Regions from separate parts of the Homo sapiens genome. Here region 2 is linked to region 1. The links come from fine-mapping of genetic effects on plasma protein levels. A gene starts in region 1. The other region holds a variant in brackets. All regions are shown on one strand. Distances are from middle to middle.

The links. PIP is the posterior inclusion probability: the model's chance that the variant is causal. Protein levels are from antibody-based Olink assays in UK Biobank. Linkage for the fine-mapping came from a reference panel and not from the study's own genotypes, which makes the PIPs less certain.
Region 2: its variant is fine-mapped to the plasma level of the F13B protein (UK Biobank, PIP above 0.99). The variant lies in the coding sequence of F13B. If it changes the protein, the assay may bind it differently, which can mimic a change of level.

The regions. Positions count from the first base shown.
Region 1 is chr1:197,063,167-197,077,823 of GRCh38, forward strand. F13B (coagulation factor XIII B chain) reads right to left here and starts at 4,094. Exons shown (of 12, transcript NM_001994.3): 1 at 3,994-4,094. The coding sequence starts at 4,057. RefSeq lists an enhancer at 5,202-6,401.
Region 2 is chr1:197,047,136-197,062,175 of GRCh38, forward strand. F13B (coagulation factor XIII B chain) reads right to left here. Exons shown (of 12, transcript NM_001994.3): 3 at 14,649-14,834; 4 at 13,764-13,940; 5 at 13,231-13,407; 6 at 10,151-10,330; 7 at 9,878-10,063; 8 at 8,580-8,762; 9 at 5,499-5,699; 10 at 3,562-3,744. Among named protein-coding and RNA genes, the nearest start is that of F13B, 13 kb to the right of the region's middle. The variant A/G (reference allele first, on the strand shown) is at 10,024.

The sequences.
Region 1 (14,657 bases):
CTTATTTTTCTTACTTAAATTTTTAAGGTACTTTTGTGACAACTCAAGCAGTCCTTTTATCATAATTGATCTGCAAATGACTTTAAACATCCAACAGTCATGATAAAATTTAGCAGACCACTTTTTCAGGGAAGCTTTGCATAACTTCGTAGAACAGTACTTTTTTTTTTCTTCCTAGACACAGAGTCTTCCTCAGTTATCCAAGCTTCAGTGCAGTGCTGAAATATAGCTCACTGCCACCAGGAGCTCCTGGGCTTAAGCAAGCCTCCTCTCCTGTAGCTAGGACTGCAGGCACATGCCACCACATCTGGCTAATTTTTGTTTTATTTTTTGTAGAGATGAGGGGTCTCACTCTGTTGCTCACGCTGGTCTCAAACTCCTGGACTCAAAGGATCCTTCTGCTTTGGCCTCCCAAAGCACTAGGATTACAAGACTTGAACCACTCCACCCTGCCTGCACTTCCTAATAGATATGTATTGTAAGTCACTTATGTAATTTAAAAATTTCTAATAGTCACATTCATAAAAATACTAAGGAACAATTGAAGTTAGTTTTAATAATAGGTTTTTATTTAACCCAATATATTGAAAATATTTTACATTCTTTTTTTTTCTAACTCTTTAAAATCCACTACATATTTATACTTACAGAATATCTGATCTTGAACTAGTGACATTTTAAGTACTGTCTCCAATAGCTATATGTGGCTGATGGCCACTGTATTGGACAGTACAGTTCAGGAATAGGTAAAGTTTCTCCTTAACATATGCTAACTCATAAAAAATTTTGAAATAAATAGCATTAAAAGAAAAAACAGACAACCAAGTAAAACAAAGCAATACTTGGCAAGAACTTGGCAAAATAGGATATTTAAATGGTTAGAGACCTGGTACTTAGCATTACTAGTCATCAGGGAAATGAAAATTTAAACCACCATGAGATACTACTGCATATCCAATAGAACTGCTGAAATGAAAAAGACAAGCTATCTCAATGATTGTGAAGAAGTGAAGAAACTGGAACTCGCATATTTCTACAACTGAAAGTATAAATCAGTCCAAACTCTATGAGAGAACACCTTTGCAATATATATTGGGGTAAAACATGTACAAACCATATTACCCAATAAAAAAAGCACATATTTGTATACCAAAAGACATGGAAAAAAATGCTTATAGTGGCAGTATTCATATAGTCCCAAACTGGGAACAATCTAAATGCCCATAAATAATAGAAAAGATAAACACATTTTAGACTATGCATACAATGGAATATTATCCAACAACAGAAATGAACAAATGGTGAATCTCATAAACATAATATTGAGTGAAAGAAGCCAATCACATATGAATTAATGTATACATTTGCATAACTTTTTAAAAGAAAACAAACTAATCCATGATAATAGAAGTCAGAATGGTTACCTTTGGGGTTTAGTGCCTTAGAAGGATCATATTTCTGGGGTACTATCACTGTTCTATATCTTGATCTGGATGGTGTAAAATTTTGTAAAAACTATATAAGTGTATCCTGTGATTTTTGCATTTTTCTGGATATGTTATACTCCAAATAAAACATATATTTTAAAAATATATCTTTATGTTGAAGATCTTAAAGTCATAAAAACACTTAAAAGAAAGAAATGCTCGAACAATCCTAGGAGCTGTGGTGGGAAGAAACATGGGCAGTCATGGATGGAAGAAGGCCTAGATCCAGTGTGATTACTACGGCTTCAATGCCTTGGTTGATCACTGTATACCTTAATGCTACTATGAGACATAAAATACTAGTAGTGCTAGCCTAGGTTTGAAGGAAATGGATGTGGAATGATGAGCAACAAAACTTCCACTATCTGATGGAGCAGACAGAAAAACATGGGCTGGATAGTCCCCATTCCTTGAGAATTATTCTCACCATTTTTTCACACCCAAGCACCAAAGGAATTTACAATAAAAAGAGTCTTCCAAAATAGCAGTGCAATGGTGAATACACAAGAAATTTCCCTGAGGGGCACAGTTGCTTGTCAGGGAGGGGCAGCAAAGTATTCTCTGCACAACAATCCTAGGTTGTGGCTTTAAAGACTCTCTGTCCTGGGACATCTCCCTCCACCACCAGGATAGGCACATTATTTGTTAAGGTAGCTGGAATGCCTTGGAGAATATGAATTCCTGACAAAAAATTAATGAGAAATGTGAGGAATATACTAATCACATATAAACCAGGAAATCACAGATGTCTGAACATATTAAAAAAAGTACATGAAGCGATGGACACACTTACTACTGATCAGAGAATGGTAAATAAATAAAAATGGGATATCACTTTATGAATAACCATATAGCAACCAGTACAAAAATGGACAATATGAGGTGTTGGTGAGAATGATGAGGAGCAACAATTTACATCCTCTCTCAGAGATGATATACTTCAAAACTGCCATTCTGCAAAAGTAATCTCTCATTACAGAAATCAAGTACAAGAATAGACTCAATAATGCTATCTGTGAGTGAATACAGACTGATGACATTCTTACAGAAAGATAAGTTGGTTATATTACAATATTCATTCCAGAGCTATTTGTGGTTGAGAGAGCTAGAGTAACATGTTAAAACATTGTAGTAGGTCCCAGGGGAAATGGACTTCAAGATTAGGAATAAGGGGATAAAATGTGTAAGTAAAGCAAGAGTGAGACCTTTCATAGGCCAATAATACTTGCATACCATGAAATGAGAAACACAATTAATTCAATTCTTGTCCCTGAAGTGCACAATGGGAGTTGAGAGAAGCATGCAAAAATAAAATCATTGTCTTGGTCTTCAAGCAGCTTACTTTTTTTTTTGTTGTGTAAAATAGCATTATAACCTTATAATAATTAGAAAATTAACTAGAATATTGCAATGTCTTTATGGTATAGATAACAGACAATTATATCTGCTGGTATTTCCCTATTTAGACAGAAAAATAAAATCAAAAGAAATTCATGCAAAAATCATCCTATTATAGAATTAAAAGTATAAAATAAGATTAATTCTGTGTCTTTCACTTTTATAATTTTAATTATAGATGTTTTGGTAGAAAATTTATAGTTAACTATTCAACTAAAACACAGTTAAAACTTATGTATTTAATTTCAACAAATTCCCAAAAATGTTTATTTTAGAAAAGCTGTATTGCTGTAGCTTCCTTCTTTGTATGTTCACTCTTGCTAATGCTAAGTGTCCTCCCTGGATTCTTCATCCTATGGCCTGATAATATTGATAATGTTCCTGAACAACATACCCATGTACACTGCCTAGCTTCCACTCGCACACTAATCTTACACATTGGGCAATCTGACTATAAAGCTTTCTAATAGGGAGTCCATAGGTATTGGTTTGTTTGGAAAGTCCTGATTTACATGTGTTGTCCAAACAGTTATTAATAGAGCCCCTCTTTTACTCTCTAAGTGTCCCTGTTTGTACAAGCAATTATATGGTTCACCTACTAATCACTACTTAATGTCTCCAACAAATGAATAATTCATTGTGATAAAAATCAAAGTCTCAAAAGTAAAAAATATTTATGGCTATTTCCTTTTCAAATTTCCCACATTAAACTCTCACCTTATGAACAGAATTAAAATTGTACAAGTTTTGTCAGTATTAGGAATGGATTCTAGCATAAATTTAGAATTAAAGTTAACATGTGACTTCGAAATGGACATATTGTTAACCTGAAAACCTTTTCGAAGTATTTAGATCCTGGTCTCCTATGCCCCCTAGAGATACAAGGGTTTTTGTTTTGTTTTGCTTTTCTGACTTATGCTACTGTAAGAACACTTTACTAATTTTGCTCAAAGGAAAAGGTCTAAATATTATAAAAAGTTATATTTATAAAATATGTTATAAAATTGATAATGAAAATAGAAGAGTATATTAAAACTTGAGTTGTATAAATATTAGAATCTCCATTTGTATGTTTTAGAGAATAAAGAATATTAAGAATTAATTTTACCTTCTGCATAGAGTTCTCCTGAGATTATCAATATGATGATAAAAGTCAGGTTTTTCAACCTCATCTTCAGTGGTGTGCTTCACAAAGATTTTAACAATTCTAAGCACTAGGAACTTGTCATTAAGTACACAATACTTCTCTTGAGGAAAAAGTTAATAATTTATAACCTCTGTCTAAGTCCTTTTGTAACGAGTCTTATATTTCACTTAAAATATTTTGAAATAATGTTAAAATAACACAACTATATTAATTGACATTACTTACCATGTCAGAGTCCAGTAAGAGCATGATAACTGATTAGGGCAACAATAGCAGCAGAATAAATAATAAATTATAGCAGCAGAATAAATAATACTAGGTAAATTTTCAACCTAAGTTCCCAATTGTAAATTCATAGAGTAAAGTTCACTTGAGGCCATAGATCTTTACTAATATTGATCAGGTAAAAAGATGAACTTAGGAACATGAGATAACAGATACCTGATGTTGAAATATGTTGTTGCCTAGACTGCACTCCTTAAAGAGATACAGAACCATAGTTGTCTCAATGATAGAATAGTATTACTTATAATAGTAGTGTTTGACATTTAGAGAGTTTTTACTTTGTGGCAGGTGGTGAGATCAGCACTGTGCTATATCAACATTCATTCATGAGAAATGTTTAGAACGTCCATGATAATGGCAGCACATGTAACAGTTTTGAGGTATTTAGCAGTGAAAAAACTGGATTAAAATTATTGCCCTCATGGAGTTTACATTCTAATGAGTTTTAATTTAAAATACAAAATAGGAAAAAATGGTGGATAGGAGGCAGGACTAACTTGCAGCTCCCACTTGGATGGACAGAGCAGGATGTGGAGACTCGCATTGTGAACTTTTGCTCCAAGAACTGCTGCAAGGATATAACAGGAAAGCCAAGATAATCCACAGACCCTCTGAAGAAAGTATATTGCTCCTGCATGACCCAGAAAATAGCCCACATACTGTGAATGCCCAAACTGTGAAAAGTGTGAAAGGGGTATTGTCCACCCCTGAACACACACCCTTGGGGAACCTGAAGGTCTAGATCACAGGAGAAGGATTTGACCTTACCTGGAGCTCAGACAATTTAGAGAGCTGAGCGAAATACAGGGGTAGAGGAAGCAAAGGGTAAAGCCCCATCGTCTCTGTGGGTCCCCAGAGAAGCCATTTCTGACTTGTCTCACAGGGGCTGCCGGAGGAACTGGGAAAAGACCACAGGGAGAAGGAAACCTCCAGCTGAACTTAGTAACAATTCCAACCGAACACAAACTTTCCTGTCCAGAACTCAGGAAAGGGCGTGAATCTGGTGTGCAGACTTAACAGGTAGGGAGGCACAAAAGTCTGGCTTGCATTCTCAGCTGGGAGGCTAGTAGCCTGGGGCAAGTTCTCAATCCTGCTCCCCTACTGCCTGGAAACAAATTCGGTGCTTTTTGGGGGAACACAGTAGAAGTGAGATTTGCTTGTTGGGTTGTGTGAGAGCTGGGTGAGGTCTGTAACTGCCAGCTTTCCCCCACTTCCCTGACAACCTGCATGACACAGAAGAGGCAGCCATAATCCTCCTGGGAAGGTAACTCCATTAACCTGGGAATCACACCCCCATTCCCCACAGAGCCACAACAAGCCCCACCCAAGAAGACTCTGAGCTCAGACATGCCTAACCCTGCCCCCACCTGATGGTCCTTCCCTACCCACCCTGGTAGCTGAAGACAAAGGTCATATTCTCTTGGAAGTTCTAGTGTCCCACCCACCACCTGATCCTCCCCTATATACCACAGCTGATGCTCTCATGAAAGCACTACCTCATGGCAGTGTGTCTGGAATTGGTTCCTTCCAATGGGTTCTTGGTCTTGCTGACTTCAAGAATGAAGCTGCGGACGCTTGCGGTGAGCATTACAGTTTTTAAAGATGGTGTGTCCGGAGTTTGTTCCTCTGATGTTCAGATGTGTCCAGAGTTTCTTCCTTCTGGTGGGTTCCTGGTCTTGCTGACTTCAGGAGTGAAGCCGCAGACCTTCACAGTGAGTGTTACAGCTCTAAAAGATGGTGCGTCCGGAGTTGTTTCTTCCTCCTGGTGGGTTCGAGGTCTTGCTGACTTCAGGAGTGAAGCCACAGACCTTCGCGGTGAGTGTTACAGCTCATAAAGGTAGTGCAGACCCAAAAAGAGAGCAGCAGCAAGATTTATTGCAAAGAGCGAAAGAACAAAGTTTCCACAGCCTGGAAGGGGACCAGACCAGGTTGCTGCGGCTGGCTCGGGTGGCCAGCTTTTATTCCCTTATTTGGCTCCGCCCACATCCCGCTGATTGGCACATTTTACAGAGTGCTGGTTGGTCTGTTTTTACAAAGTGCTGATTGGTGCATTTACAAACCTTTAGCTAGACACAGAGCGCTGATTGGTGTGTTTACAATCCTTTAGCTAGACAGAAAAGTTCTCCAAGTCCCCATTCGACCCAGGAAGTCCAGCTGGCTTCACCTCTCAGCAGGAGGCCAACCAGCACCAAACTAGTGCATCAAACAACTACAACTAAGGACCCTCACAGAGTTCCTTTCACTCCCCTGCCACCTCTACTGGAACAGGTGCTGGTATCCATGACTGAGAGAACTGAAGACAGTTTACATCACAGGACTCTATGCAGACAACCCCCAGTACCAGCCCAGAGCCTGGTAGCCCTTCTGGTGGCTAGATCCAGAAAAGTAATAATAATCACTACAGTTTGGCTCTCAGGAAGTCACATCCCTAGGAAAAGGGGGAGAATACTACATCAAGGGAGCACCCCGTGGGACAAAAGAATCTGAACAGCAGCCTTGAGCCCCAGATCTCCCCTCTGACATAGCCTACCCAAAAGAGAAGGAACTAGAAAAACAATTTTGGTATTATGACAAAACAAGGTTCTTTAACACCACCCAAAAATCACACTAGCTCATCAGCAATGGATCCAAACCAAGAAGAAATTCCTGAACTGCCAGAAAAAGAATTCAGAAGTTTGATTATTAAGCTAATCAAGGAGGCACCAGAGAGAGGTGAAATCCAACTTAAGGATATCAAAAAAATGACACAAGATATGAGCGGAGAAATCTTCAGTGAAATAGATAGCATAAATAAAAAACAGTCACAACTTCAAGAAATAAAGAACACACTTAGAGAAAAGCAAAATGTACTGGAAAGTCTCAGCAATATAATAAAACAAGCAGAAGAAAGAACTTCAGAGCTTGAAGACAAGGTTTTCGAAGTAATCCAATCCAAAAAAGACAAAGAAAAAAATTTAAGTGAATAAAGCCTCCAAGAAGTTTGGGATTATGTTAAATGACTAAACCTAAGAATAATTGGTGTTCCTGAGGAAGAAGAAAAATCTGAAAATTTGGAAAACATATTTAGGGAAATAATTGAAAAAAAAAAACTTCCCTGGCCTTGCTAGAAATCTAGCCATCCATACACAAGAAGCTCAAAGAACACTTGGGAAATCATCATAAAAATATCATTACGGCCGGGCACAGTGGCTCATGCCTGTAATCCCAGCACTTTGGGAGGCCGAGGGAGGTGGATCATGAGGTCAGGAAATCAAGACCATCTTGGCCAAAATGGTGAAACCCTGTCTCTACTAAAATACAAAAAAAAAAAAAAAATTTAGCTGGGCATGGTGGCATATGCCTGTAACCCCAACTACGTGGGAGGCTGATGCACGGCAATTGCTTGAACCCAAGAGGTGGAGGTTGCAGTGAGTTGAGATCGTGCCACTGCACTCCAGCCTGGCGACAGAGCAAGACTCCATCTCAAAAAAAAAAAAAAAAGATTATTGCAGCTAAGTGTGGTGGCTTATGCCTGTAATCTCAACACTTTGGGAGGATGAGGTGGGCAGATCACGAGGTCAAGAGATCAAGACCGTCTTGGCCAACATGGTGAAACCCCATCTTTACTAAAAATACAAAAATTAGCTGGGCGTGGTGCCATGCCTGTAGTCCTAGCTACTCAGGAGGCTGAGGCAAGAGAATCACTTGAAGCCAGGAGGCAGAGGTTGCAGTGAGCTGAGATCGCGCCACTGCACTCCAGCCTGGCAGCAGAGCGAGACACCATCTCAAAATAAATAAATAAATAAATCTTCACCTAGGCACATAGTCATCAGTTTATCTGAAGTCAAGACGAAAGAATCTTAAGAGCTGTGAGGCAAAAGCACCAGGTAACATACAAAAGAAAACCTATCAGATTCACAGCAGATTTCTAAGCAGAAATCCTATAAGCTAGAAGGGATTGGGGACCTATCTTCAGCCTCCTTAAAAAAAATAATTATCAGCTAAGAATTTTGTATCCAGAAAAGCTAGGCTTCATAAATGAAGGAAAGATACAGTCTTTTTTAGACAAACAAATGCTGAGAGAATTTGCCACTACCAAGCCAGCACTACAAGAACTGCTGAAAAGAGCTCTAAATCTTGAAACAAATCCTGGAAACACAACAAAACAGAGCTTCATTAAAGCATGAACCTCACAGGACCCATAAAACAAAAATACAGTAAATAAATAAATACTTAAATAAATAAAATCAAGGTATTCAGGCAACAAATAGCATGATGAATGGAATGGTACCTCACATTTCAATACTAATGTTGAATGTAAATGGCCTAAATGTTCCACTTAAAAGATACAGAATTGCAGAATGGGTAAGAATTCACCAACCAACTATCTGCTGCCTTTAAGAGACTCACCTAACACATATGGACTCACATAAACTTAAGGTAAAGGGGTGAAAAAAGACACCCCATGCAAATGGACACCAAAAGTGAGCAGGAGTAGCTATTCTTATATCAGACAAAACAAACTTCAAAGCAACAGCAGTTAAGAAAGACAAAGAAGGACATTATATAATGATAAAAGGCCTTGTCCAACAGGAAAATATCACAATCTTAATTATACATGTACCTAACACTGGAACTCCCAAATTTATAAAACAATTACTACTAGACCTAAGAAATGAGACAGACAGCAACACAATACTAGTGGGGGACTTCAATATACCACTGCACTAGATATGTCACCAAGACAGAAAGTCAACAACAACAACAACAACAAAATGGATTTAAACTATACCCTGGGACAAATGGACTTAGCAGATATATACAGAAGATTCTACCCAACAACCACAGAATATACATTCTATTCATCAGCACATGGAACTTTCTACAAGATAGACCATATGATAGGCCACAAAATGAGCCTCAATAAATTAAAAAAAAAAATTATGTCAAACACTCTCTCAGACCACAGTGGAATAAGGTGAAAATTAACTCCAAAAGGAATCTTCAAAACCATGCAAATACATGGAAATTAAATAACCTGCTCCTGAATGATCATTGGGCCAACAATGAAAGATGGAAATTAAAAAATTATTTGAACTGAATGACAATAGTGACATAACCTATCAAAACCTCTGGGATACAGCAAAAGGTGGTGCTAAGAGGAAAGTTCATTGTCCTAAAGGCCTACATCAAAAAGTCTGAAAGAGCACCAACAGATAATTTAAGGTCACACCTCAAGGAACTAGAGAAATAAGAACAAACCAAACCTAAGCCCAGCAGAAGAAAGGAAATAACCAAGATCAGAGCAGAACTAAATGAAATTGAAACAAAAAAAATTGTTTTAAATATGAATGAAACAAGAAGCTGGTTCTTTGAAAAGATAAATAAAATTGATAGACCATTATATTAACCAAGAATAACCAAGAAAAGAAGGAATAAAATCCAAATAAGTTCAATTAGAAATGAAACGGGAGATAATACAACTGACACCACAGAAAAAGATCAGTCAAATCTACTATGAACACCATTACATGCATAAACTAGAAAACCTAGAAGAGATGGGCCGGGAGCGGTGGCTTACACCTGTAATCCCAGCACTTTGGGAGGCCGAGGCGGGAGGATCACGAGGTCAGGAGATTGAGACCATCCTGGCTAACACAGTGAAACCCCGTCTCTACTAAAAATACAAAAAAAAAAATTAGCCGGGCATGGTGGTGGGCACCTGTAACAGCTCCCAGCTACTAGGGAGGCTGAGGAAGGAGAATGGCGTGAACCTGGGAGGCAGAGCTTGCAGTGAGCCAAGATCCCGCCACTGCACTCCAGCCTGGGCAACAGAGCAAGACTCCATCTCAAAAAAAAAAAAAGAAAAAGTAAAAGAAAAAGAAAACCTAGAAGAGATGAATAAATTCCTGGAAAATACAACCCTCCTAGCTTAAATCAGGAAGAATTAGATACCCTGAACAGACCAATAACAAGCAGTGAGATTGAAGTGGTAACAAAAAAATTACCAACAACAATTCCAGGGCCAGGGATTCACAACAGAATTATACCAGACACTCAAAGAAAAATTGGTGCCACTCCTATTGACACCATTTCACAAGACAGAGAAAGAGGGAATCCTCCCTAATTCATTCTATGAAGCCAGTATCACCCTAACACCAAAACCAGGAAAGGACATGACAAAAAAAAAGAAAACTACAGGCCAATATCCCTGGTGAACACAGAAATAAAAATCCTTAACAAAATACTAGCTAACTGAATCCAATAACATATCAAAAAGATAATCCACAATGATCAAGTGGGTTTCATACTGCAGGGATTGTTTAACATACATACCCAAGTCAGTAAATGCGATACACCACATAAACAGAATTAAAAACAAAATCACATGATCATCTCAGTAAACACAGTAAAATCATTTGACAAAATCCAGCATCCCTTTATGATTAAAACGCTTAGTGAAATTGGCATACGAGGGACATACCTCAATGTAGTAAAAGCCATCTATGACGAATCCACAACAAACATAATACTGAATGGGGAAAAGTCGAAAGCATTCCCTCTGAAAACTGGAACAAGATAAGGATGCCCACTCTCACCAGTTCTCTTCAACATAGTGCTGGAATTCCTAGCTAGAAAAATCAGACAAGAGAAAGAAATAAAGGGAAACCAAATTGGTAAAGAGGAAGTCAAACTTTCACTGTTTACTGATGATATGATTGTATATCTAGAAAACCCTAAGGACTCCTCCACAAAGCTCCTGGAACTGATGAAAGAATTCAGCAAAGTTTCTGTACACAAAATTAATGTACACAAGTCAGTAGCTCTCCTATACACCAACAGCAACCAAGCTGAGGATCAAATCAAGAACTCAACTCCTTTTACAATAGCTGCAAGAAAAAAAAAATACAAAAAATACTTAGGAATATACCTAACCAAAAAGGTGAAAGGCCTCTACAAAGAGAACTACAAAACACAGCTGAAAGAAATCATAGATGACACAAATGGAAACACATCCCATGCTCATCGATGAGTGGAATCAATATTGTGAAAATGACCATACTGCCAAAAGCAGTTTACAAATTCAATGCAATTCCTATCAAAATACCATCATCATTCTTCACAGAACTAGAAAAAACAATACTAAAGTGTATATGAAACCAAAAAGAGAGCCCACACACCCAAAGCAAGACTAAGCAAAAAGAACAAATCATTTGGAGGCATCATGTTACCTGACTTCACACTATACTATAAGGCCATAGGCACCAAAACATCATGGTACTGGTATAAAAATAGGCACATAGACCAATGGAACAGAATGGAGAACCCAGAAATAAACCCAAATAGTTACAGCCAACTGATCTTCAACAAGTCAAACAAAAACATAAAGTGGGAAAGGACACCCTATTCAACAAATGGTGCTGGGATAATTGTCAAGCCATATGTAGGAGAATGAAATTGGATACTCATCTCTCACCTTACACAAAAAAAATCAACTCAAGATGGATCAAGGACTTAAATCTAAGACATGAAACTATAAAAATTCTAGAAGATAACATTGGAAAAACCCTTTTAGACATTGGCTTAGGCAAAGACTTCATGACCAAGAACCCAAAAGCAAATGCAACAAAAACAAAGATTAATAGATGGGACTTAATTAAACTAAAGAGCTTCTGCATGGCAAAAGGAACAGTCAGCAGAATAAACAGGGAGAAAGTCTTCACAATCTATGCATTTGTCAAAGGACTAATGTCTAGAATCTACAAAGAACTTAAACAAATAAGCAATAAAAAAAAAAAACAATCCCATCCAAAAGTAGTCTAAGGACATAAACAGACAATTCTCAAAAGAAGATATACAAATGGCCAACAAATGTGTGAAAAAATGTTCAACATCACTCATGATCAGGAAATCCAAATCTAAACCACAATGCAATACCACCTTACTCCTGCAATGGCCATAATAAAAAAATAATAATAATAGATGTTGGTGTGGATTCAGTGAAAAGGGAACACTTCTATACTGTTGGTGGGAATGTAAACTAGTACAACTACTGTGGAAAACAGTGTGGAGATTCCTTAAAGAACTAAAAGTAGAACTACCATTTGATCCAGCAATCCCATTACTGGTTATCTACCCAGAGGAAAATAAGTCATTATACAAAAAAGATACTTGCACAAGCAGGTGATGTTAATAACATCACAATTCACAATTGCAAAAATATGGAACCAGCCCAAATGTCCATCAACATCAATCAATGAGTGGATAAAAAATTGTGATATATATACAGGATGGAATACTACTCAGCCATAAAAAGGAATGAGTTAATGGCATTCACAGCAACATGAATGGAACTGGAGACAATTATTCTAAGTGAAGTAACTCAGAAATGGAAAGCCAAATATCATATGTTCTCACTCATAATTGGGAGCTAAGCTATGAGGATGCAAAGGCATAAGAATGATACAATGGATTTTGGGGATTCTGGAGAAAGGTGGAAGGGGGCTGAGGGATAAAACACTACAAATTTGGTTCAGCGTATACTGGTTGGGTGATGGGTGCACCAAAATCTCACAGATCACTGCTAAAGAACTTACTCATGTAACCAAATACAGCCTGTTCCCCCAATAGCCTATGGAAATAAAAATAAAATAAAATAGAGTACAAAATAATTCTGCAAGGCAGAAGCTATTATTATTTCAATTTTGTATTTTTTATTAAATGTATTAACAGAAAAGTGTACATATGTTAAGAATTCTCACAAGTCTAAGACATCCATGAATCCACAACCCAGAACAAAGAAGGAATATACCAGCACCCCAAAATCCCCCTACCAAGTTACTGCCTACATCTACCCTAGTGTTAAACATTATCTTGACTTCTAATAACATAGATCAATCAGTAGTTTTATACTATATAAATGGAATCATATGGGAAATACATGTATATTTTTATGTCTGGTTCCTTTTGTTTAACATTTTGGTTCTGAGATTTATCCATTTGAGGATACAGTAGATAGCACCTTTTCTAAATAGTATTGCATTCTGTAAATATGCCATAATTTATCCATTCAACTATTTATGTAAATTTGGGTTACTTACAATTTATAAAAATCATTGACATCTGCTTATTTTCAAATATTTTTTTCACACAAAACCTCTACCTAGATGCTATCATTAACATTTTACTATCGTTTTCTTACTAATTTTTAAATGCTTCAATTAACCTAATTTTTCAACAATAGGTCTCCAGAATGTATTCATTTTGCATAACTGAAACTTTGTTGCCTTTGACCAAAACCTCTTTATTTTCTCTTCCCTGCAATCCCCTAGCAACCACCACCATTTTACTCTCTGTTTCCACTTGTTTGACTGTTTTAAATTCCACACATAAATGAGAGGATGGAGTATTTGTCTTTCTGTGTCTAGTTATTTCACTCCACATAATGTCCTCCAGGTCCATCCTTGTTGCTGTCAGTGGCAGGATTTTCTTCCTTTTTTAGACTGTATAATATGTCATTGTATGCATATAAAGTTGAGCCTTAAAAAAGTGGGGGTTAGGGCTGCTGACTCTCTGCACAGTCAAAATTCTACATATAACTTGACTCTCCCAAGACTTAACTACTAATACCATGTTGTGAACTGAAAGCCTTACCAATAACACAAATAGATGATTAACACACTTTTTTTATTATATGTTATAGACCATATTCTTACAATAGAGTAAGCTAGAAGAAAGAAAATGTAACTAATAAAATCATAAAAGGAGGAAATATATTTACTAAGTGAAAGTGGATCATCATAAAGGCTTTATCCTTGTCATCTTCATTTTGAAAAAAGGAGGAGTTATTCTTGTTGTCTCAGGAGTGGCAGAGGCAAAAGAGGTGGAAGAAGTGGAAGTGGAAGCAGGAAAGGCAGGCAAACTTTGTGTAACTTTATGGAAATGCATTGTAATCTCTGATGTTTTCTTTTTTCATTTCTCTAAAAATGTTTCTACACAGTACCAATCTTTCTTTCCCCATTTGCTTTAGTTTCTCTGCCCATATCATAGAAGGGTCCATGTCATAAAAGAAGTCAAAAGCAGTCTTGAATAATCAGAACCCTTCTGCCAGATTGTCTAATGTAAATTTGTTTTCTGGCACTGCTTCTTCTCTATCTTCTTCCTCATAATTTGGCACTGGTTCAGAAGCCCTCTTCTCCATCAAGTCTTCTATTAATTTCTCTGCTGTGGTGTCTATTACCTCTTGAATTTCTGCAAAATTCATATCTTTAAACCTTTCACTCCTTACCTTTTTTTTTTCTTTTGCCATATCCACACTCTTCCTTGATTGGCTCCATTGTAAATCCTGTGAAGGCATGCAC
Region 2 (15,040 bases), 16 kb before region 1:
CAACAAAAGCCAAAATAGACAAATGGAATTTAATTGAACTAAAGAGCTTCTGCACAGCAAAAGAAACGATCATCAGAGTGAACAGGCAACCTACAGAATGGGAGAAAATTTTTGCAATCTATCCATCTGACAAAGAGCTACCATCCAGAATCTACAAAGAGCTTAAAAAGTTTACGAGAAAAAAACAACCCCATCAAAAAGTGGGCAAAGGATACGAACAGACACTTCTCAAAAGAAGACATTTATGCAGCCAACAGACATATGAAAAAATGCTCATCATCACTGGTCATCAGAACCACAATGAGAGACCATCTCACTCCAGTTACAATGGCGATCATTAAAATGTCAGGAAACAGCAGATGCTGGAAAGGATGTGGAGAAATAGGAGCGCTTTTACACTGTTGGTGGGAGTATGAACTAGTTCAATCATTGTGGAAGACAGTGTGGCGACTCCTCAAGGATCTAGAACTAGAAATACCATTTGACCTAGTGATCTCATTACTGGGTATATACCCAAAGGATTATAAGTCATTCTGCTATAAAGACAAATGCACAGATATGTTTTTTGCAGAACTATTCACAATAGCAAAACTTGGAACCAACCCAAATGTCTATCAATGATAGACTGGATTAAGAAAATGTGGCACATACACACCATGGAATACTATGCAGCCATTAAAAAGGATGAGTTCATGCCCTTTGCAGGGACATGGATGAAGCTGGAAGCCATCATTGTAAGCAAACTATTACAAGGACAGAAAACCAAACACTGCATGTTCTCACTCATAGGTGAGTGTTGAAGAATGAGAACACATGGACACAGGGCAGGGAATATCAAACACCAGGGCCTGTCTGTGGGGGTCTGGGGGAGGGATAGCTTTAGGAGAAATACCTAATGTAAATGAAGAGTTGATGGGTGCAGCAAACCAACATGGCACATGTATACCTATGTAACAAACCTGCACATTGTGCATATGTACCCTAGAACTTAAAATATTATATATATATATGTGTATATATATATACACACACACCTATATGGAGAGAGAGAGAGAAAGAGGGAGATGACCAATGGGATATACATGGAGTATAGTAACATACACCTAGTATAGAAAGTTGGTAGGGTTGGTAGGTATAAACAGAAATATATTAGTAATTACATGAATATGTAAATAGACTATTCCATTACAAGGGAAAAAATTATAAACTGCATAAGTATATTTTAAAATAAGGTATATATTGCTTATAAGAGAGGCACACTAAAAGTAAAAACCCAGAAGGTTGAAAGTTAAGGGATGGAAAAATGTGTACTACATGAATGCTTGTCAAAAGCCCCTTGGTGCAGCTAAAGGAGACCTCAAGGCAAAAAAAAAGGCAAAGCATTACTATATATGAAGGAGGTCTTTTAAAATTAGACAATGCCAATACACCAAGATACGAAGATTTAGTGTCTCAATTTGTGTGTGTACCTAATGAAATAGTATCAAAATACAAAAGCAAAAATGGACAGAACTAAAATTAGTAATGTTTTAAAATGCCAAGTGAGACTTTAACATGCTTCTCTCCGTGATTGATAGAAAACAAACACACACAAATCAGTACAGCTTTGGATTAACTTAAACATCAAAAACAAAACTCAATCCAATTCACATATATAAAACAGTGAACCCAACAATGACAAAGTTAACTTTTTTCAAGTATGAAAAGAACGTTTACCTAAAGCAAATACATGCTTGTTATAAAGCAAATATCAACAAATTTTAAAGTGCAGATATAATTCAAAGTATGTCTTAATTGAATTAAACTAGAAATCAGTAACCAAAAGAAAACTAGAAAATCCCCTAAATATTCAGAACTTTAAAAAGAAACTTCTAAATGATTCAGAGCACAGAGAATATATCAAAATGAATACTATAAAATTTTTGAGCTGAATGACAGTAAAAATCCAAGATATAAAAATGGTTTGGATGAAGTTAAAGTTGTGCTCAGAGAGAAATTTCTATTTTTAAATTCATGTATTAGAAAAAATATAAATGCTGAAAATTAGTAATCTATGTATTCATCTAAACAAGCCAGAAAAAGAGTAACAAAAGAAATCCAAGAACATAGAAGAAAGGAAATAATAAAGATAATAGCATAATTAATAAAATAGAAAGCAAAATTTGATGAATCAACAAATGCAAATGTTGGTTTTTTGAAAACACTAATAAAATGTATAGACCCTTAGCAAGGCATGTCAAGACAGATACATATTAATAGAAGTAATAACAAAAGATACATCAATAAAAACATCAAAAAGAGGATAGGAAGATGTCATAACTACTTTATGTTAGTAGATTTGACAATGTAGTTGTAATGAACCATCAAGAAACCACTCCCTACCAAAACTGACAGAAGAAGAAATAATTACCATTATTTGTTAAACAAATCGAAGCTGTCAATTTGTCTTTTCACGGAAAAACTCAAGTCCCAGATGGCTTCTCTGGTTAACTCTTAAAATTATAAAGGAAGAAATAGCATCAATCCAGAGAACCAGAAAAGACGGAACACTTCCCATTCATGGGATGAGGTCAGCACAGACTTGATATCAAACCAGAAAGGAAAATAACCAACCAGTCTTTCTCATGAAAATAGATGAGTAAAATATTGATAAATAAAAATATAACATATAATATGCATAATTTATCACAACCTTGTGGAATTTCTTATGGGAATAGAATCATGCTTTAACATTCAAAAGAAGCAATATAATTCATTAAATTTGCAGGGGAAAAAACAAAAGTAATAATTATGTAATTATTTCAACAGATATTGCTAAAAATTAAACACAGATTGAAGATTCTTTAAAAATACTTTCGGCAAAATAGAAAGAAAGGTTTTTATACCTTTAACTTGATTTTTAAAAAAATATTTATAACAACACATAGAGGTGAATTATCAAAGGTTTTACTTATGAGAATGGGAAGCAAATAAAGATATCCACTACCTCTTCCATTCAACATTGTACTGAAGTCCTAGCCAGTGAAAGAAGATAAGAGAAGTAAATAAAAGTCAGAATTGGAAATAAAAAATATTTTCTTATTATTTACAGATGTGCTATTTCATGCCTCTGAGGGCCTTAGTAAATGTTGTTACTCTTACTAGGATGCCTTGCTAATAAAACATTAACTTGCTTCATCTTTCCATATTGAGTTGTCCATTTCTTTATTTCCGCATTGTTTTCTATTATACATGTTTCCCTAATGTTTTCTATTATAGTACCAATCACAATGAATGATAATTGTTAAAGTTTACTCACACCACTATGGCTTATTCAACTTATAGCCCATACCAACCTGATGTGTGGTTTGTCTTTAAAAAAATATGTATTACAACAAACTGAACTATAGGTATTTATGATCTAGAGGAAAGAATAGAAAGCAGTGATAAAATAAGCACATGAATAAAATAACACAAATGTAGCAAATATAGCATTATATTAGTGTTATGTTAACTCAAAAATGACAGCAAATTAAAAATATATAGTTTTACTTTGTTAGAGGCATATTTAGTAGTACATACCTAAACACAATGGTGGTGTAGTCCACATTCCATCTAAACAATAGGCCTCCCTAGATCCTTCTAGGAAATGGTGATCAAAACATCTGTATTCTACTGAAGAGCCATTTTCATAGGTGTCTACTGTTGAACTAATAATGACTCCATGTTTAATAAGAGGAGGAGATGTGCACATTCCTTTAGATTCTGCAAAAATAAGTTTTAAAGTATACAATGAATTGCTATAATGAACATCCAGTACTTTATAAGTGCTACAGAGACAGAGTCTCCCTCTGTCACCCAGGCTGGAGTATGGTGGCATGATCATGACTCACTGCAACCTCTGCCTCCCAGGCTCAAGTGATCCTCCTGTCTTAGCCTCCCAACTAGTTGGGACTACAGGTGCATTTTTCTTTTGTAGAGACAGGGTCTCACTATGTTGCTCAGGTTGGTCTTGAATTCCTGGGCTCAAGAAATCTGCCCACCTTGGCCTCCCAAAGTGCTGGGATTACAGGCGTGAGCCACTGCACCTAGCCATAAAGCCATTTTTTAGGCAGTTCTCAAATATTTTTAAAATATTGAAGATGTTTTTGCAATAATATTATACCATACAATGTATTTTTATAATTAGAATCCCACGTTATAGTGTTTACATGCATATTTAAAACTATGAGAGTATTAACAATCATGATTTTATTTCTCCCTAAGTGTATATGGGATTTTTCTAGAAGCCATGATTTCTGTATATATTATTTTCCTTTTCTTCCTTATTAAAAGTAATAGTCCCTATAGCCAGTGAGTACTGAGACAATGGGTCCCCAGAAAGCCCTAAGTAGAGCAATGCTTTACAGTGTTTGTTGTTGAGTGCTCACAAGAAGGTGATCAATTCTCTGATAGTCTGGCAACATTTATAAAACCTCTTGATTTTTTCCCTTCATAAAATTGACTTATTGGAATTAAAAGATGTCAGCATGGCCATCCTATATAGGTATATATGCTGATTGAAGTTTGGAAGTTGGATCACTCCTCTCAACTTTATAGATTAGAATATGATGGTGGTGAATTGGGGTCATAGGTATAAATTTTCTCTAAAGATCAGCGATGTTGAGCTTTTTCCTCATATGTTTGTTGGCCACATAAATGTCTTCTTTTGAGAAGTGACTGTTTATATCCTTTGCCTACTTTTTGATGGTGTTGTTCGTTTTTTTCTTGTAAATTTGTGTTAAGTTCCATGTAGATTCTGGATATTAGACCTTTGTCACATGGGCAGATTGCAAAAATTTTCTCCCATTCTGTAAGTTTCCTGTTCACTCTGATGATAGTTTCTTTTGCTGTGCAGAAGCTCTTTAGGTTAATTAGATCTCATTTGTCAGTTTTGGCTCTCATCGCAATTGCTTTTGGCATTTTCGTCATTAAGTATTTGCCCATGCCTATGTCCTGAATGGTATTGCCTAGGTTTTCTTCTAGAGTTTTTATGGTTTGGGGTTTTTACATTTAAATCTTTAATCCATCTTGAGTTAATTTTTGTATAAGGTGTAATCACAATGAGACACCATTTCACACCAGTCAGAATGGCAATTACTAAAAAGCCAAGAAACAATAGATGCTGGTAAGGCTGGGGAGAAATAGGAATGCTTTTACACTGCTGATGGGAATGTAAATTAGTTCAACCATTGTGGAAGACAGTGTGGTGATTCCTCAAGGACCTAGAACCAGAAATGAAATTCGACGCAGCAATTCCATTACTGGAATTGCAAACCACCATGGCACACGTATACCCATGTAACAAACCTGCACATTCTGCACTTGTGTCTCAGAACTCAAAGTAAAATAAAATAAAATAAAACAAAATTAAAAAGAATAATAATAAGAAAAATAGCAACAAACTATAAATAAATTTTCAACCGAGGTAGCAGATATTGGTCAAGTAAAGATACTTGCAGAGAACATTATTATTTTACCTTTTCTAGTACATAAAGGATATTTCACTTCTCCTCTGTTGCACTGCACAGATAATTCAGACAATGGGGTTAATGGAGATAAGTCATATCCCTGTTTACATACAAAATCTATTAAATCTCCATGTAAGACTTTCCCTTCATATTTCCACTTCATTTCTATGTTATTTCTGTTCATGTAATCCACATTAACAGTACATGGTTCTGTAAAACAAAATGCTCTTTTAAATTCTTTACTTGTCTGACAAATATAAAAGTGATATTTTTTAAAACAAAAATTATGACAAGTTTCAAAAGCAATATTTTATAATTGAAATCATAATTAAGGCTTCTCTCACACACATATATATATAAGAAAATATATACTTTATTACTATCAAATGAATCTATACATTATTGTCATAAACTAAAACCACTTAATTTAAAACATCAAAAATACTATTTAAGGGCATCAATCAGTTAGATTAATAATAATTTTCTTTCTATAAAATAAAAACCTTTAACTACCATGTAGAAAATAATAGAAAACCTGCTAATGAATAAAACCAAGACTCCTGCTCCCATGGAGCTTACCTTCTAACTGGGAGAAACACCTACAATACATAATAAATATAATAAAGACATGAATTGTATAATTTGTGGCTGATATGGTTTGGCTGTGTGCCTACCCAAATCTCATCTTGAATTGTAGCTCCCATAATTCCCATATGTCATGGGAGGAACCTGGTTGGAGGTAATTGAATCCTGGGGTGGGTCTTTCCCATGCTGTTCTCATTACAGTGAATAAGTCTCATGAGATCTGATGGTTTTATAAAGGGGAGTTTCCCTGCACATGCTCTCTTGCTTGCCACCTTGTAAGACGTTCCATGCTTCTCCTTTGTCTTCTACCATGATTGTGAGGCCTCCCCAGCCATGTGGAACTGTGAGTGCATTAAATCTCTTTCCTTTATAAATTACCCAGTCTCAGGTATGTCTTTATTAGCAGCATGAGAACAGACTAACACAGTGGCCATCTTTAAACTACAGCATAAGATAAATTAGATGAAAAAAAGAGTACTGGAGCAGGAGGGGGTAACAAAAGAGCTAGGTGAAGAGAAGTTGCACTTTTCAGTAAGGTGATTAGGGTAGGCCTAAATAAGAAGTAAAAAAGCTTGAAGGGGACTTTGCACAAAAGCTTGAAGGAGACTGAGTGAACCATGTCATTTTCTTATGAAAGAGTGTCCCAAGCAAAGGGAACAACCAGTGCAAAGGCCCTGAAGTGAGAGCATTCTTGGCTTGTTTGTGGAAGAGTAAGGAGACCAGAAAGACTGGAGTGATTAGAGCAGGGAAGAGAGTATGGAGAGGTTAGAGAGACTCTTAATGTCTGGAATAATAATTCCTACAGAGAAAATTCTATGCTTTATCATACTGTTGTGAATTTGTACTGATAGCCTTTCCAGTTTCAATAGTTACCAAGATATACAAAGCCCCTTTCTCTTGCCCTGATAACAATGATTAATCTTCATTTGGTATTTGCTTTGATTCATTAGGACCAAACCTAACTCTCTTGAGGCAGTTGTTCCAGATATAGAATGATGTATTTCCTTAAATGTTGTTATTTCCTTATGAGCTTGTTTCATTACCAGCTTTGCCATAAATATTTTAATCTAGTCTTTGTCCTTAGAGATTACTATATCTCCACTCAATGCAATATCAACCAAAGCATCAAAAACTTAATATCAAAAACATTTATAAAAATATGAGACCAATAGCAAAATTCTATGTGAATATGTATCTGTATCTGAATTTGAATGGGAATCGACTCCTAAGAATTACTTGAAAGGTGGAAACTACTAACAAAAGGTTGAAAGAGCTCAAGACTTAAAACATACACTTATATATACTTAAAAACACTATAAATAAAAATAAATTAAAAATAATTGCAATAAACATGATTCTCAATTGGATAAAATAATTTATATATAGATTTATAAGTATGAAAAAATGGCTAAACTATGAATAATTAATTCATGTAAAAAAACCTGTGGCTACTAGAAAGTTAAAAAATTCCAAATTAATTAATTCTTAAATAAATCAAATTAAAATAATTGTGCTTGCCTGCTTAACAAAAAATGTCAAGATTAAAATATTCAAAGTTAACAAAGATTAGGATGATTACTACTTTAATTCACTTATGGTAGGGTTAACAAAGCAGAACAAACTTTCTGATAGACAATTTGCCAATTAATAGAAAAAGAATTAAAATTCCTGATCTCATGATAATTATTTTTAACAAAAATAAATATGTTTAACATGTACAAAGATTTACTTGAAAGTGTACTGTTTGGAATATAAAAATGTTGAACACTAAACATCCATCAATAAACTGGTTAAATTACATATGTATATCTGCATTATGGAATACTATGCAGCCATTAAAGTATATATTGTAGAAGTATGACAAACCATGTTTACAATATATTTTGAGTGAAAAAATCTAAGATATATACCTCTGCATCATATCATAGCATTTTGTGGAGTGTGTGCTTGTGTGTGTAAAACATTTAGAAGACCATTTATTATCTAAGTCATTAGCAAACACTTTTATATAATCAACAAGATGTAACAAACGTGTCCATTCAGATGAGGATGCGGTGGTAAAATTTAGCAATATACTCTATATAATATACTCTATAATATATTAGCAATATACTCTACCAAGGAAAGAATAGGACTAATTATTCTTCTTGAAATGACATTCTGAGGGCAATACAAGCAGAGATATTGAGGGCTGTATACCAGGGAGGGAATTTCAGCTAGGAGAAAGACAACCCAAAAGCTAATTGGTCACAAAAATGTTAATATACTTAATGCCACTGAATTGTACACTTAAAAATAGCTACGGTGGTAAATTTTATGTTATGTATATTTTACCACAATAGAAAAAATACACTAATATTTTAGGGACTTTCTACTTAAAGAAATGAGAGAGAAAACACTTGTGAAAAAAGATTTGTACAAAATCATCATTTTCATGATATAAAACACTGTAAGAAAATCACATAAAAGTACAAACGTAGACATTCCATGTGTTCTCTTTCTTACCCAAGCAAACAGGTGGGGATGACCATTTTCCTTGTTCGCAACGAGATATTTTTGATCCCCTCAGTAAGTAATATTCATTGCATCTATATTCCACTGAGGATCCTGTTGCATAGCTTGCCAATATCCCGTCTGCAACAGCCCCATTCATTACAACAGGAGGATGCTTACAATTCTCATTATTTTCTAAGAAAAGAGGTTGTTTTAAAATTAATATGAGCTCATAACAATATACTATAGTAACTCATACTATAGTGTCTCGATATTTGTATTATATAATTTAGGACAATTGTTTTATAAATTCATTACAAATATGAAAAATTTTTTCAGCTCAAATATTTTTAAAATTTGCTAAGCAAGAGTTGACAGCAAATATGTTACCTAAAAACAACTATACGTATTTTTCTCTTTTCTCAATTGTGAAGGAATTATGATATACACATTTCTTAAACCTATAGAATGAGAAACTGTTCTTCAACCTAAAGATTATGGTCAATTCTAAAATTGCTCTTTGGCATTACCCCACTTTTATTTTCTTCTTTTTCATTCCTCTTCATCTCAGGTCTCAATAGACCCATGAAGGAAATATCAATTTTTTTCCTCTTTTTGGTATCTTTCTCTCACTTTATCTATTTCTTTAGCATCCTTCATTGCTTTTGTCTTATTTAATAAATATCCTAGATAAACATGTGTGTGGAGATGTTGCTCTGATCTGATTAAGAAATGAGATAGATGACAGGAAGAGTAGTCTCCAGGAATGATAGTGTAGCCTGGTGGTGCCTTTCAGTAAAATGAAAGACCAGGGACATGTCTCAGAAGGGCATAAGGTTCAGAATGGCCAGATGCAAAATATCAGCAGGACTTACCCAAGGTCAAGAACAGAATGCACTACCCTAACTTTGCAGGACATATGGGGAGAAGAAGTAGATAATGCTCATGGCCCGTCACTCAATCCACCATGCCCTTATTTACTTATCTAATGAAGCACATCGTCATTTATGTGTTGTCATTTAGAACTTACAGGTAATGGCATGACACAGATCAGATAACCGTGCTTAGCACTAGCGTTCAAAAAAAACTTTTGTTTAAGAATTCTTTACATTGACTTAAATTCTACAGATAGCTACACATACAGGCACACACACATGCACACATGCAAAGCAGAAGAGTAGGTGCTGTAGCAATGTGTTTCTAATTTGCCTAAGCAGTGGTCTTTTCCTAGGAATATTCAGATTAAAGTAACAGAATGGAAAATTTTACACCATAAGTTTAGCTACTGATGGTAAATGTAGCATACATACCAACACACTCAGGAGGAAGTGTCCATTTTCCACGATTACAAGTTATCTCATTCGATCCATGGAGAAGGTAGCCGCTTTTACATGCATATGTCACTTTATCCCCATTGTAATAAATCTTAGAGTGTAAATTTGCTGCACCATTTTCA[A/G]TGAAGGGTGGTTCCTCACAGGCTACCTTCTCCTGTCCTTCTGAAAAGGTACAGTTGAAAGAGAACTGACCATTTAGCTACACATGCAGATTTCATTTTAGCAAAGCTTCTTCAAGGTGTTACTAACCAATGCATTTTGGAGGTTCTGTCCATTTTCCATCTTCACAACGTATTTCTGCTGACCCATGGATCTCAAAATTAAGTTCACATTCTATATGAACTATTTCTCCATGACGATAAGTTGTTGAATGTGTTTGAATTTTGGAGTTTATGGGCAGAGGTGGAGGAGGACATCTGTTTCTTCTTCCTTATGGAAAAAATTAATCAGCACCTTTAGTCATATAATTACAAAAAATAATAAAGATTAAATTAAAATATTCATCATGTCAAGCATCATAGAGAGAATGGCAGACTGATTCTAGGAGCATTCCTTTGATCCTCACCTCCTGATGTTAACTTCCTTGTGTGATACCCCTTTCCATGAGTAGGACCTGTGACTTGCTTCTAGCCCACAAAATACAGCAAAGGTGATGGATTAGTACGTGATTATGCACACATAATTATGTAACATCAGTTTTTAACGCCATTCTTGCCAAGAGACTCTCTATCCTTGCTGGTTTTGAAGAAACAAGAGGCTACATCATGAGCTTCCAAAGCAGAACGGCTGCAAGGCAAGGGGCAGAGGGCTGCCTTCAGTTAACAGCCACAAGAAACAGAGGCTCTCAGTTCAGCAGTCTGCAAAGCACTGAATGCTGCCAATAACTACAGTGAGTTTGGAAGAAGTCTTGCCCAGTCAAGCCTCAGATGAGACTGCAGTCCAGCTAACATCTTGATTGCAGCTTTGATAGCCATCGATGCAAGGAGTCGGTTAAGCCGCACCCAGACCCCCAACCTACACCCAATGGGAAATAATTTCTTTGTGTTGTTTTAACCTGCTGAGTTTGTGGTGACATTGTTACGCACCAATAGAATACTAACACAGCAGGCATTTTACATTCATTACCTCTTTTAGTCCTAAAATAACTTTATTAAGTAGGAACTATTATTTCTCCCATGTTATAGACAAACTAAAACTTATGAAGTAAATAAATTAATAGCATGTAGCAGATCTGTTCTTGAACCCACGTCTGTCTAAATTAAAGTCTCCTGCTCTAAAATACTGACCACACTACTTTCCTATTGCTGCTTTGATGAATTACAATTTAGTGGCTTAAAACAGCACAGATTTATCCTCCTACAGTCCTAGAGGCCAGAAGTCCAGAGTCAGTTTCACTGGACTAAAATCGAGATATCAGGAGAGCCACATTCCTGCTGGAGACTTTGGAGGAGAATCAGCTACTTTGCCTTTTCTAGCTTCTTGAAATCACCTGTATTCCTTGGCTCACAACCCCTTCCTCAAAACATTTCAACCTGTGGCTTCCATTGTCACATCTCCTGCTTCCTCTTCTGCAGTCAATCTCCCTCTGCCTCCCTTTTATAAAAGCATTTGTGATTATATTTAGAGTCTGGATAGATAGTTCCAGATAATATTCCTACCTTAAGATTGTTAACCTCAAAGTGTCTTGTACCGTGTAAGGTAACGTTTAATGGTTCTCAGTATTAGAATGTGGCTATATTTTGGGAGGAGTAAGAGAGATATAATTCAGCCCACAACTGAATTATATTGTTGTGGGCTGAATTATATTAGCCATTGTATGCCTAATGACTGTTTACCGGAAAAAACAGGCATGTTGTCATGCTGGCTAATTTGGAAGAGGAGAAGGGTATAAAAGGCCTTAAGTAGGTCTGCCATTTATTTTTGAAGTAGCACTTTGAGAGGCTGAGGCAGGCTGATCACCTGAGGTCAGGAGTTCAAGACCAGCCTGACCAACGTGGCAAAACCCTGTCTCTACTAAAAACACAAAAAAATTAGCTGGGCATGGTGGCCGACACCTGTAGTCCCAGCTACTCAGGAGGCTGAGGCAGGAGAATCACTTGAACCTGGGAGGTGGAGGTTGCAGTGAGCTGAGATCGTGCCACTGCACTCTAGCTTAGGCGACACAGCAGGACTCCATCTCAAAAAAATAAAAAATAAATAAGGAATAATAGACTTTAAAAAAATTTGCTTAAAAAATCTACTTCTCTACTACTATACCAAGGATGTCGAGCACAAATGAAAAATCATAAAATCTTTAAAGTTACTGTACAGTGCATTTAGGGAATTATGATAGTTCTGGCAATCCCACTGCATACCCATGGTCAGAGCCCTCATTTGTTTCCCCTAGCACCTGTTTCAAATCTTCACCACTTTCCTCCAAGTTCTACCTTCATGTCTTTCACCTGCCTGTCAATAGACCTTATATCCCATATTACAGAAAATAAAAAATGACTATCAAACCCTTTGCCTCACCCTATCCTCCCAATTCTCAAACTGCTACTTATCTCTTAAGACCCAACTTAAATATTGTCCATCACTTCTGTGAATGCTATTCCACAGCATACCAATCAGAATCTCTAATGTTTATTCCTGCACTTTGTACCTGAGTTGATTGTACCATTTGTCACATTATAGCAATTATTTTTTTCATATCTGCAATTACTGTTTTCATATCTTCTGCTAGTATAGGACCCTCCTCATATTAAATTGTAGGTTTGTTTAAATAACTATGGATGTCTTCTGACAGGTAATTGCATTACCTGTTTGGACACTTCCAGTAATAGAAATGTGACCATAGATATTACATTTTTGGGCAGCTTTTACAAGATGACCTCTTTTCCCATTTTCACTTCTGGGCATTATTCTTCTGCTTTTCCTGCTTTCTCTGCTTTCTACCTCACTATTTTGGAGATTAATTTTTACATCTGGAAATATGTGGCAAATTAAGAGAAAATATCCTTGCAAAGCTGCCAGATTGGGGTAATTAGTCCTAATAATTCCCAATAAGAAAAGTTATTCGTTATAATAAGGGATTTAAAATGTATAATAGATATTTTAAAATAATAAATTTAAAAGATATAGTCATTTACAAACTAAGACAAAACAAGATTTATTCAGGTGGGATATATTAAAGATTGCTGAAAATAGCACTGATTTAAAAGATAATATTTATTTTAAAAATAGGACTCAGGAAAAAAAATAGATATGACCACAGGAATTTTGTCAGAGCTAATAGAGATTAAAGCTGATAAAGACATGGCATTTTGCGAGTATTAAATTTAAAAATTTACCTTCGCATACAGGAGATTCTGGGTACCAACCAAAGTTATAGCATTGAATTAAATCAGATCCACTTAGATAATAATTTTCATGACAGAAAAACTGAACGACATCTCCTTCTTCATAGGTTTGCTTTACAGGATGAAAATAACCATTTTCAATTAATCTTAAAGAAGAGCACTTTAATTCTGCAAATAAAAGAATGAATAAAATTACAAACAAATGTTTATTTTTTCTGCTACAACAAAATGCACTATTTACATGACATAACTAGAATAGAAATTAAATTTGCCAAAAAGCTTATGAATTCATTTTATATATTTGTTAAATATCATTAGGCTTATTCTAATTTAATTCTGTGAGCTAAAATGAATTTATTCTACTTGAGAGCTTTAATTATCAAAGACTGCTATCAACATAATTAAAAATAAAGGCAAAAATGCATGAAAAGGTGAAACATAATGAGCATGACAACTTATATACACTTCTCTATGAGAAAAAGCTTTCAGAGTGAGAGTAGATTTTATTCCAAATGAGAACCTACTGGTACATTTTGGTGTGAGAGACCATCCGTATGTGAGACATTCTACCTCCTCTGTCTTCTTTCCTCCAGCTGTGTAGTAGCCAGTAGCACATTCGTATTGTACTTTGTCCTTCACTTTGAATGTTTTCTGTGTTGTGGAATAATTTCCATTATATAATTCAGGAGCCAAACATGTTTCTAAAATTATAAAAATTATTTATTTTATAAACTTTTTTAATAACCTAGATTATAAAAAATCTCAAAATATGGTTTTACAAATCTTAAGAATACATGGTAAAATCAACTCTTAGCAAAATTGAAAAATAGCCCCAATTTTTCTTTGCCTCTATTCTCTTCTTCATACACCTTGTGACCTAACTCTACCAGTTTTCTGTTTTTAAAATTCTAGTCTACAAGTGCTTGACCAAAGGCCAAAATTCAACTAAAGGCTTGTGCAGTAGCAATTGTGAAAGTATGTGCTGTCTATGCATTTTTACAATTTAAACAACTTACTAACAAAGTATACATATATTTAAATTATTGAACTATTTTTAAGTATATCTGACATTGGTTCACAATATAAAATAATGTACATGATCTTAAATTCTTCTGTAATAAAGGAAATAGTGACATATAAAGAAAAAGCTTCTTTCATTTTATTCCATTCCAATTCCTTTTATTGATGCAAAGTAGGAACTATTGGCGTAGGTGGGTTGTAGGGATTGAGAACATTTGGATTAAGGAATCACCTAGTACTTGAGAAAAGCAATGTAATATCAACTTCCTGCATTGTAGACATAATGAAAAATAAATTCTATTAAATAATAGATATCAATATAAGCTTCAATATATTCAATATAAGCTTGATAAGCACTTATCTTCAGTTTTAGGAAATGATTCTTATACCATGTTCTTTCCTACAGGTTGGTTGAGAAGACCATCCATCAGAGAGACATTGAACCACTTCTTCATCCTTCCCTCCAGTGGTTTTGTACCCTGAAGCGCAACCATAACGCATGTTCTCTTGAATTTTATACAATAACTTTACATCAGAGATGTAACCATTACTCAGGTCAGGCTTAGTGCATTTTTCTATGGGAAAAAAAATTATTTAACTTAATGATGAAACTAAGCTTGTCTTTTACTAAATTGTAAAATTAAGCCAAAAGTATAATGTTATTATTGGCGATTTCATTTTGGAAATATCTGCATAATTTTTTTGAAAATGGATTCAATTTAACACTGACTCTCTTTGTATTTACTAATTTTAGTTCTTATAGTAATTTCTACCCCTACCA